Homo sapiens: one gene and its partner. The protein of the gene in region 2 interacts with the protein of the main gene of each other region in a pairwise test. Each region holds a gene or a part of one and is shown on either strand. Other genes may lie near its edges.

Evidence for each region.
Region 1: the proteins of FTHL17 (region 2) and SLC35E1 interact in binary tests that used the Homo sapiens proteins (3 or more experiments, as listed by UniProt).

The regions. Positions count from the first base shown.
Region 1 is NC_000019.10:16,549,201-16,555,573, forward strand, and holds the end of SLC35E1 (solute carrier family 35 member E1), read right to left. Parts: intron 6,198-6,373; coding exon 5,952-6,197; intron 4,710-5,951; coding exon 4,479-4,709; 3' UTR 637-4,478; downstream 1-636. UniProt on the Homo sapiens protein: Putative transporter.
Region 2 is NC_000023.11:31,070,687-31,076,107, forward strand, and holds FTHL17 (ferritin heavy polypeptide-like 17), read right to left. Parts: upstream 1,356-5,421; 5' UTR 1,268-1,355; coding exon 716-1,267; 3' UTR 547-715; downstream 1-546.

The DNA of each region.
Region 1 (6,373 bases), on a different chromosome or scaffold from region 2:
CTGCAGGAAGCTGTGGTCGTGCCACCGCAGTCCAGCTTGGGTAATAAGGTGAGACCCTGTCTCTTAAACCAAAAACATAACAGGCCAGATAGCTTGAGCCCCAGAGTTTGAGACTAGCCTGGGCAACAAGGTGAAACTCCATCTTTACAAAAAATACAAAAATTAGCCAGGTTTGGTGGCACATGCCTGTATCCCAGCTACTTGGGAGGCTGAGGCGGAAGGATCCCTTGAGTCTGGGAGGTTGTGGCTGCTGAGAGCCGGGATTGCGCCACTGTACTCCAGCCTGGGCGACAGAATGAGATCCTGTCTCAAAAAACATGAAACATACCAAAAAAAAAAAAAAAAGTTTCATAAGCACAGCTGCCACAATGTTCCTGGACTTCCCATGTTATTCCGTTCAATAAAGTCACGTCATTAATTTAGCTGTGATCCTATTTTCATTGTATCATCTAATCAATTCACAAATTGCACGTCCTTATTTTTGGCTCAGAAGAAAAAACAAAGGTTGCAGTAAATCCAGACGTGACAGCCAAGTTGGCTTGCTCTTTCTCCTCCTTCCACATTTTGTTGCTGGGCACACTGAAGACAGGGCCACTCAAAAAGAGACCCTCGCTGACAAATCGGGACCAATTTTGATTCCCTGGAAACCATCATTTATTTTTGGTAAATGCCAGTGAGGAATATACACGTCATTCCTGCAGAAAAGTCTATAGCATTTAAGTCTTGAAAACAGGTGACAATTGAAAAACATTATAATATTTTCAGGTCTTTTAATAATTCAATGCTCTGTGTCCTTCAGGCTGTGAGACCCTAAGGTATTGGGGTCTGGTAATGTCCCAGCTATAGCAAAGGGCCTGTTGGGTGACATAGGACAAATATACAGCAAAATTCAGAAACTGCAAGTGCTTCCTCACTTGAACGGATCTGGCCCCTTTGTGGTAGGGGCTTGACTGTTCCTAGAATGAATGACTTAAAATAAGGTGGTTAAAAATTCTGCAGTGAGTCTCGCCATGGTGAACAAACATGATTCAGAAATGCCTCCTTCTATAAAATGAAGGAGCTGGGTTGGAGTCAGTATTACCAGCCAGACCATACCCTGATGGGTAAAGGAAATTCTCTACCACAGAGCTCAGCAGTGAGGTGGCTGAGAGGAAGGCAGGCCTGCAGATGAAAGCGTGGGAGTGGAGCATGTGGGGCGGGCACTGTCCGGCTGGGAAAACCCAGCCTTCAAGAGGCCATTGTCAATCAGGCTGGGCACGGTGGCTCATGCCTGTCATCCTAGCACTTTGGGAGGCCAAGGTGGGCGGATCATTTGAGGCCAGGAGTTCGAGACCAGCCTGGCCAACATGGTGAAACCCTGTCTCTACTAAAAACACAAAAAATTAGCCAGCCGTGGTGGTGCATGCCTGTAATCCCAGCTACTCGGGAGGCTGAGGCACGAGAATCACCTGAACCCGGGGGATGGAGGTTGTAGTGAGCTGAGACTGCGCCACTGCACTCCAGCCTGAGCAACAAAGCAAGACTCCATCTTGGCAGGGGGCGGGGGGATGTGGACCTTCAAGTCTCAGAAATATGTGTTTGTCTTTTGATCTGCTGATTTGGTGTAACGTGATTGCCTCATTCATTCCAGTGTACGTACTTGCTGTAAATTTATATACAGAATTAAATAGCCCATTTATTAATTTATAAACCATAATAAAACCAGACAGTCATTTCCCGTCACCAGCAGATCTTGCATTGGAAAAGGAAAATAATATACAAATTTCAGCAACTTCAGAGATTTCAGGAAGCCTGAATGGAGGTCGAATTCATTTTGGAGTTCAATAATATGTTCAAAGAATCAGGTACTATATATAATCATATAGACAACTCCCGTAATATCTCCGCAGTGCAAAATTATCCCTGTTTCTTGTCATTCACCAGTGAGAAAAATCCAACTGCAGACTTGACTGCCTTCGGTGAAGGCACACGGCAAGTTCTTCTGACAAATAACACCCTTTGGGATTGACTCTTCACGTTTTACACAGCAATTGTCTCAGCTTGGGACCAAAGTATTTACAAAGCAAGCGAACAAGAGACGAAGCAAGAGGGACACTTCTGAGGCCGGTGGTGCGGAAACTCACCGCCAAACAGGGTGGGGGGCCAGTCACCTCTTCAGGAGTGTCCCATGTGTCAGCTGACATAACATCTTAAATACAGAATTCCAATTGAAAGAAAAACAAACAACAACAAAAGAAACACCAGTCAAGCATAAGTGATGTTACTTCCTCTCTGAACAGGGAAACATCTCGCTCGCTGGGAGATAAAAGGTAAATCTCTCATTTGCTGCTCTCTTCCCCTAAGTGCCAGCAAGAAGCTGGGTGTGGTGATGAAGAAAGAAGGCAGCCATCACCTAAGACCCCACAAGCCAAGCCGTGGTCCCCTCCGTGAGGGCACGGTCCTTTCATGAAGCCGTAAAAGAGACCACAGCTCGGACCTGAGCACTCAGGGTTACCTACTGGGGTCTTGTCATATTCCTTATGTTGATTTCTGCCAAGACCCAAACTGATTCCTTTTTTTTTTTTTTTTTTTTGAGACAGAGTCTCACTCTGTCACCAAGGCTGGAGTGCAGTGGTGTGATCTCAGCTCGCTGAAACCTCCACCTCCTGGGCTCAAGTGATTCTCCTGCCTCAGCCTCCCAAGTAGCTGGGATTACAGGCAGGTGCCACCATGCCTGGCTAATTTTTGTTTTAGTAGAGATGGGGTTTCACCATGTTGGCCAGGGTGGTCTCAAACTCCAGTGATCCACCCACCTCAGCCTCCCAAAGTGCTGAGATTACAGGCATGAGCCACCACGCCTGGCCCCAAACTGACTCTTGACCAAAGAATCTGATTTGGCAAACCAAATCTTAGTGCAGTGTTCGCTCCTCGTCCCCTTACCCAGAACATGATTCAGATCCTAACATAAACACAAAAACAGGTCAGGGAACCAAAACACTGTGGTCTTGTCTATTATACAAAATATTGAGATAATGTTCACGATTCATTCTGTTTTCAGCAATTGTGACAATTTTGAAGCTTCTCTCGAAGCTTCGAAACACTTCATTTCCTACTAAATACCAAAACGTGTCAGACAGGCATCACCAGTGGGAACTTGGTTTTGTTTTGTTTTTTTTTTTGAGATGGAGTCTCGCTCTGTTACCCAGGCTGGAGTGCACAATCTCGGCTCACCACAACTTCTGCCTCCCAGGTTCAAGCAATTCGCCTGCCTCAGCAGCCTGAGGAGCTGGGACTACAGGCACGCGACACCATGCCCGGCTAATTTCTGTATTTTTAGTAGAGATGGGGTTTCACTATGTTGGCCAGGCTGGTCTCGAACTCCTGACCTCGTGATCCGCCCATCTTGGCCTCCCAAAGTGCTGGGATTACAGGTGTGAGCCACTGTGCCTGGCCGGGGAACTTTGTTTTTAAACGTTTACAAACAAAAAGATTTTCGATGCATAGGCCAGTCCTAATGCATCCCATAATGGGGACCAAGGCAAAAACACACACACACAACTACAAAATATTCCCTAGAAAAATGCAAGATCCTCCGAAAATCAAGATCTCTCTACCAAACAACATACCAAGTCATCACAGAAGAGGTGAAGATGCCTCTCAAAAGACATGTGCCACAGAAATAGAGCTTGAAATACTGAACACGATTTCTCGAAGATCCTTCTCACCACCCCAAGAGAAGCGCCCTGCTCTGGTGAGGGAAGAGGAGGCAAAGGAGAAGAGAGAAGTTTCCCTTCCATCTGGATCTGGGTGGATGCCAACCCTGACGTGCAGGGCAGAGCACCAGGCTGCAGGAACTGGATGCTAATTGCAATCGCTTTTTGCTTTGGAACATTTGCCAGGAACTTGTGAACTGCTAAGGGGATGACCAGGAAACTGGATCCATCTCTGTGGCTGGGGATGTTTTGAATGATTCTCGCGGGCTCCCTGTCTGCTTGGTGACCCTGTTGGTCCTATGCGTATCTGCGCCAGGGAATTAAACTAGCCAGTCTGACGTTCTCAAGCACCGCCCTGGACACCCCCACTGCCAGTTCATGGTCTACAGCCACAGTGACCCCAGCTTTTCACACAGGTCCTGAATGTTATCTGGAATGCAGACACAAGTGCTCTGAGCTACACTGCTTGGGGAATAATTCCACATGGAAAGGTACAACGTGGCCAAGATCTCCGCAGGGACACGGCCCTCAGATGACAGACTCCAGGAAGAAAGAGCATGAGACACTGGTCTCTGTTTAGGTTTGCCCAGAGCTCACGGCCGTCTGCACTGCAGGCAACGCATCCTCCTGCGGCTCACGGGGGGCCAGGAACCCCAGGGCTTCTGATGGAGAGTTATGCACCGTCCCCTCGGCTGGGTTGTACATTCACTGATTGTCAGAAGTTTCTGATACTGCTGTGGGGGCCGGGGAAGGAGTCACCAACAGTCTGGTCCTGTCCTTTGGACTCTACACATCATAGCGGTTCAAACTGTACGAGTTTGGGTAGCTCTGCCGGCTGTATTGGAAGTGGTCTGTTAAGATGTTGTTGCGGCCGTACTGATAGTCCCCGTGCTGGGGGAAGAGGAGGCCGTTGTGGGGCTTCTCCAGTGGGCTCCGGTGACGCTCCTTGCTGCTCAGGTCTGCTGTGGTGACGGGGAGGAGGTGCTTCCTGGCTTGCTGGTTTGCATCGTACTTGGTCTGTGCCAGAAAGAGAGCAATGAGACAGGACATGCCCGGGGCATAAGAGCTCGTAATTCAAAGTCAATCAACTGGCTGGCTGCGGTGGCTCACACCTGTAATCCCAGCACTTTGGGAGGTCGAGGCGGGAGGATCACCTGAGCTCAGGAGTTTGAGACCAGCCTGGGCAACATGGCAAAACCCCGTCTCTACTAAAAATACAAAAAATTAACCGGGTGTGGTGGCGCATGCTGTAGTTCCAGCTACTCAGGCGTTCTGAGGCACAAGAATCACTTGAACCCAGGAGGCGGAGGTTGCAGTGAGCTGGGACCATACCACTGCACTCCAGCCTGGGAGACAGAGCAAGACGCTGTCTCAGAAAAAAAAAAAAAAAAAAAAAAAGTCAGTTAACCTCCGGGGCCGGCATAAGTCATAGGGCTTGAGCAAGGAAAGCAGACTTGAATGGACCAGACCACAGTGCATGGACAGACTCAGAAGACAAGTCCTTGGCCAGGCGCAGTGGCTTATGCCTGTAGTTCAAGTGCTTTGGGAGGCCTAGGCGGGAGGATCACTTGAGGCTAGGAGTTGGAGACCAGACTGGACAAAATAGAGAGACCCCATATCTACATGTGTTAAGAAACAAATGAAGAGGCCAGGTGTGGTGGCTCATGCCTGTAATCCCTACACTTTGGGAGGCCAAGGCAGGTGGATCAACTGAGGTCAGGAGTTGGAGGCTGGCCTGGCCAAGATGGTGAAACCCCATCTCTACTAAAAATACAAAAATTAGCCAGGTGTGGTAGGCGCCTGTAGTCCCAGCTACTCGGGAGGCTGAGGCAGGAGAATCGCTTGACCCCGGGAGGCGGAGGTTGCAGTAAGCTGGGATGGAGCGCCACTGCAATCCAGCCTGGGTGACAGAGCCAGACTCCATCTCGAAAAAAAAAAAAAAAAAAAAGAAAAGGAAAAGAAGGCAAGCCCTCCCTGTTGGCCATCCCATGTCCTTACACCGCACTAAACAGAGCCTTTGAGAGGAGGGAGGGAAAACCCCAGCTGAGACACAGCCGGAATGATTTGAGGACCTGAGGTTGCCTATGCAGGAAAAAGGAAGCCAGAGTGGGATGGGGCTACGCCAAGATCATAAACCAGTCAGTGGCAAAGCTCTGACATACAACCCCAGCCTTGAGCGCCCGGGAGGCCCTTCCTTTTCTGACTTCCTGGGTGTTGGGGGGCCGGCTTCCTTCCCTGCCCAGCCTCTCAGACTCTCACCTTGTTATAGAGGAAGACCCCCAGGATGGCGGTCATCATGCCCAGGACGTTGGTGCTGGTGACTGGGTTGCGCAGCATGATCAGGGACACCGTGATGACCATGATTCTTTTGGTGGCATTGGCGACCGAGTAGCTCAGGGGGCTAACGAGGTTGAGGATGCTGAAGGCGATAACATTCTGGGCAAAGTTACAGAAGCCGCTGACAGCCAGGAGCAGGAGCGTCCAGGGCCACTGGTAGACGTAGGTCTGCAGAGACCGGAAGGTAAAGACAGCACTTCAGTGGGCAGCGGTGACCCTGCCTCCCTGTATCCACCTGGCAGGGTTAGGGGAAGGGATGTGGAGGGGCTCATCTGGAGCCTCATGGTCCACAGGCAGCCAGTCCAGATGTGTCACCAAGAGACACTAGGTGCTTTAGGTCCATG
Region 2 (5,421 bases):
TGCCATTTTAGTTTGTCAGCCCCTTGGCTATGGGGAAGCCAGCTTAAGGCTCCCACTACAACTGTCACCCAAAGTGAGCTTGCCAAAGAAGTACCCTGCTGTGCTGTCACCCAGAGCCCCCACTTGCTACTCAGAATCCACAAACATTAACATTGGCATATTTTAATAAACTACAAGTTTTCATGTAAAGTTGAAGACCCTTTGTTTATTTTAATCCTTGCCCAATCCCATTTCCTTCACTTCTTCCCCAGAGGCAACCACTATGATGAATTCCAGACCACGTTTTACACTTTACCGTGCCCATGCACCCACAGCCACCAGGGCCCAAGAGTGACCACCCCACCCCATCCCACCCCACATACCCTGGTAGTTTACAAAGGGAAGACTAATGTGTTTTCCAGGGGCCCATAAAATACCATTCCACTCCACCCCTGCAAATCCTGAGCTGCATGCAGATGGGGCAGGGGTGGGTGGAGAGACTGCTGGATACCTACTTTAAACCTGCATGGGGATTTGCCCTGATTCCTAAAAGGTGAGAGTTGCAGGTGTATCAAATGGACACCTTTATTGCTTTGAGAACCAGATAACTTTTTTGCTAACAATGGTAAAACTGAAAGATAAAACTGAAGAGAACGTTCTGAAAGGGCAACATGCACGCCCCGCCTAGTGGCCTGACCCAGGGAAGGGACCCCGTGGCTGTGGGGCCCATCTGGGCTCAAGTCTCTTTGACGCGGCCGCCCAGGGTGAGCTTGTCGAACAGGTACTCAGCCAGGCCGGCTTCCGGGGAACAAATCTTGCGCAGGTTGCTCACGTAGCCACCCAGCTCTTTGATGGTCTTGACTTGCTCGTGCAGGTAGTGGCTCTCCAGGAAGTGGCACAGCTGGGGGTCGCCCTTCTCCACGGCCAGCTGGTACAGATCCAGCAGGCTCTGGTTGACGTTCTTCTCCAGGTGGAAGGCGGACTCCATGGCCACGAGCCCGCTCTCCCAGCCTTGGCACTCTGGCTTCCTGATATCGTGAAGGCAGATGTGGCCACCGCGCAGGTTCTGCAGCCTCATCAGCTTCTGGGCATGCTCCATTTTGTCGTCCGACAGGCGCAGGAAGTAGCGGAAGAAGTTCTCCAGGGCCACGTCGTCCCGGTTGAAGTAGAAGGCCATAGACAGGTACAGGTAGGAGGTGTAGAGCTCCAGCGTGATGTGGCTGTTGATGGCGGCGTCGCAGTTGGTGTCGTACTTCTGGCGCACCTGCGACGGCTGGGCGGTGGCCATGGCGGGCAGCGCAAGTGCAGGCGAGCACACGGGCGAAGTCGGTGCGGTAGCGAGGGCAGCAGCTGAGGTGACAAGAATGGCGGATAGTGAAAGGCGGGTGTGCGATGAAACCGGAAGTGGGCAGTGGAAGTGGGCAGTGGCGACCGTTAGGGAGGAGCGCGCTCTGTCGGTGGGGGGAGGGGCGGCGGGGGACAGAGTTGCGGGGCAAGGGGGTGGGGGCACAAGCGCTGACTTCCGTCGGAAATCCCGGCCACTTGGCGCTGAATGTTTCAAGACCATCTTTTAAAAATAACTGCTCTAGGCCGGGCACGGTAGCTCACGCGTGTAATCCCAGCACTTTGGGAGGCCGGGGCGGGCGGATCACGAGGTCAGGACATGGAGACCAACCTGACCAACATGGTGAAACCCCGTCTCTACTAAAAATACAAAAAAAATTAGCCAGGCATGCTGGCGCGCGCACCTGTAGTCCCAGCTACTCGGGAGGCTGAGGCAGGAGAATTGCTTGAACCCAAGAGGCGGAGGTTGCAGTGAGCTGGGATTGTGCCGTTACACGCCAGCCTGGGCAACAGAGCAAGACTTGTGTCAAACAACAACAACAAACTGCACTATTGAGATACAATTCCTCTGCCATAAAATTCACCCTCTGAAACATTTCCATGGTTTTTAGTATATTCATGAAGTTGTGTAACTATCACCCCATCACCAAAAATCTAATTTCAGAACGTTTTCCTTATTCCAAAATGAAATCCCCTACCCATGAGTAGTTACTGCCCATCTCGCCTTCCTCACTGGCCCGACAACCACAAATGAAATCTCTGTTTCTAGAGATTTGCTTACTCTGGACATTTCAAATAAATCATACTATATGCGGCCTTTATATGGCCTCTTTCATTTAGCATAATGTCTTTAACTTTTGTCTTTTTTATGGCTGAATTATATTTCATTGTATGGATATACCACATTTTATTTACTCATTCATCAGTCGATGGGCATTTGAGTTGTTTCCATTTTGTGACTATTATGACTAATGCAGCTATGAGGATTTTTATAATAGACATATGTTTTCAACTCCCTTGGGTATATACCTGGGACTAGAATTGCTGGGTCATATGTTAAGACTCTGTTTAACATTTTGAGGAACTGCTAGACTGTTTTCCAAAGTCCCCTCATCATTTTACATGCCCACTAACAATGTATGAAGGTTCCAACACTGTCATTGTCTTTGTTGTTTTTCTAGTGGATGTAAAGTGGTATCTCACTGTGGTTTTGATTTGCATTTCCATAATGGCTATTGATGTTGAGCATCTTTTCATAGTCATTTGTATCTTCTTTGGAGAAAACTCTATTCAAGTCTTTTGTCCATTTTAAAATTGGGTTATTTGTACTTTTATTGCTGAGTTTTAAGAGTTCTATATATATTATGTGTGCCAGTCCTTTTTCAGATATATGATTTGCAAATATTTTCTCTCATTCTGTTTTTTTTTTCACTTTCTTAATGGTGTCCTTTGAAGCACAAAGTTCTTAATTATGTTCAATTTTTCTGTTTTTCTCTTGTCACTTGTGCTTTTAGTGTCCTATCTAAGAAACCATTGCCTAATTCAAGGTCATAAACATTTATGTCCAGGTTTTCTTTGAATAATTTTACAGTTTTAGCTTTTACATTTAAGTTTCTAACTCATTTTGAGTTAATTTTTGTATATGATATGAGGTCATTGTCCAATTTCATTCCTTTGTGTGTGGATATCCAGTTGTCCTAGCACCATTTGTTGAGAAGACCATTCTTTCTCCACTAGATGGTCTTGGCACACTTGTCAAAAATCAATTGACCATAGATGTATGGGTTTATTTCGGGACTCCCAATTCTGTTCTGTCAATCTATGTGTCTAAACTGATGCTGGCACAACACTGGCTTGATTACTATAGCTTTGTAGTAAGTTTTGAAATTGGGAAGTATAGTCATCCAACTCTGCTCTTCTGCAGAGATTGCTTTGGCTATTCTGGGTCCCTTGAATTTCCTATGAATTTTAGGATATGCTTGTCAATTTCGTTTTTTTTTTTTTTTTTTTTTTTAAAAACCAGCCTACTGGGATTTTGTTAGGGATTGCATTAAACCTGTAAGTCATTTGTGGGAATATTGGTATCTTAATATTAACTCTTCTAGTCCATAAACATGGGATGTCTTTTAATTTATTTGGGTCCAGGACGTTTAAAAATAAAGATTTTGATTTAGGCTGGGGCTCCAAATCAGAATTTCTAAGCATCTCAGGTGATGCCAGACCACATTCTGAGTAGCAATGCTCTAAGAGGGAGGAGGCCTCTATCCCTTATCAAGGTTTAGAGATAAAGAGGACACATATATTGGACTCCACAAGCAAAAATTCCTGTTCTCACATCACAGACAATGCTTGTGCTATTTATTATACTAGATGTAGTTTTTTGTGGGAAAGGGAAGAGACCTTTCTCCTATCACAAAAAATTGTGAAAGACTTTAAAATCAGCAAAAACAATTTCCTGGATGTGGTTTTTAGAGTACCTTTCTGGGTTATCTCCATCTTTCATTGACTTAGAGTTATTTTCTAACTCTTCAGATTGTAGAAAACTAATAATAATGCAAACAATTCTTGTCCACAGAAATGCAAATAAATGTCTGGTGAAATGCAATTGATTTTTGACTTATTTTGCATCTATTTGTACATTCCTTATTTCAATATTCCTTATTCCTACATATGTATGGCTCTTTGAATTCTCCTTTGAGCCATTTGTAACATCTTACTAGTTTCCTCATTAATTAATAAGTTAAATAAAATGTTTCATGCACATATTTTATATTTATATGAGAGTCATGATTTTACTTTTTTCCTCGTAATTATTCTTTAGCACTCCCCAGGTCCACCCCCACCCGACCAGGAACACAACTGAAGCCCAGGGAAGTTGACTTGGTAAAGTGAGCACTTTTATGGGTTGCTCACCTGAGATATGATTCCAGAAAATTACTTAGGACCTAAAGGCATAGAATTCCTGACTGTGGAATTCTATATGGACTATGGAAAGATAGCCTCTCTGAGGAGAAGGAGGCAGGGAGTAGTCCAGGGCTGTAGGAGACCAACGAAAACTAGCAGAGGAAGTGGATATCCAGGGAGCAGGCCACAGAGGTACCTCACCAGCAGAACACTGTAGCCACAGTGGGGCTGAGGCTGGCCTGATGCAAACTGGGGAGGATAGAGAAGTAGGGGTGACCAGTAAAGGTCTGTAGAAAACTGGAACCAGCTGAGAACCAGGGAAGTGATGAGAGTTTCCAGGCAGAGAATGTAGTTAACAGAGATTTGAGGGGTGGAAGGTTGACTGACTCAGATGGGAGTTTGACAGGCTGAGGTTCATGGTCTGAGTAAAGTTAACCCTGGGAAAGAGGTAGGAACCTGAGCTTTTGGAGCCAGGATGAAGGATCCTCTCATCAGCACTTTTGTGCTCCCTGAATCATACCCCTGGAAGGGGTGTTCGGATCCACAGATACTAAGAGTGTGGAGTATCCAGGACTGGGCCATGGGCTTCATCTTCCAGAGAAGTTTCCTTCCAGCTGGTGATCAGATGTAGGGACGCTCTAATGCATTCTTCTTGGCCCTACTATGGGACAACTTTTTAGCACAAAGGCCGTAGGACAATGGTTGCTCCTATTTGGTTGGACACTACTGAGACGTCCAACACTCACACCCATACCATATTCTAAAGAAGAAAATGCTCTTTCCAGTCTCTAATTCCTTGCTGTTCTGATTTTGGGGGAAAAAAGAAGAATCACTGTCTTGAGGAGCAAAGGAAAACCCTCAGAACTTAGACATGCCCATTGTATGTAAGTTGATGGCTGATATTCGTCAGTTAAATAGGAATTGTTTCTAAGGTTATAACTTTTCATTTCTATTCAGTGTGCTGAATAATCTCCATCTACCTCTCTAAGACTACTCTCTGCTTTTCTCCATCTTACTTGGCACACTGGGAGGGGGAGGTTGACCTGTATGTACTGCACCCCTAGGTCCCTTGTGCTGTCTGGCTTCTAGTTGCATTCAGTCAACGGGAGGCACTGGCAGGATATGGGAGGGCAGGGGAGGAGTGAAGTTGAGGTATTTTTTCTCTTGGCTCCATCTCTTCAGGGCAGATAATTA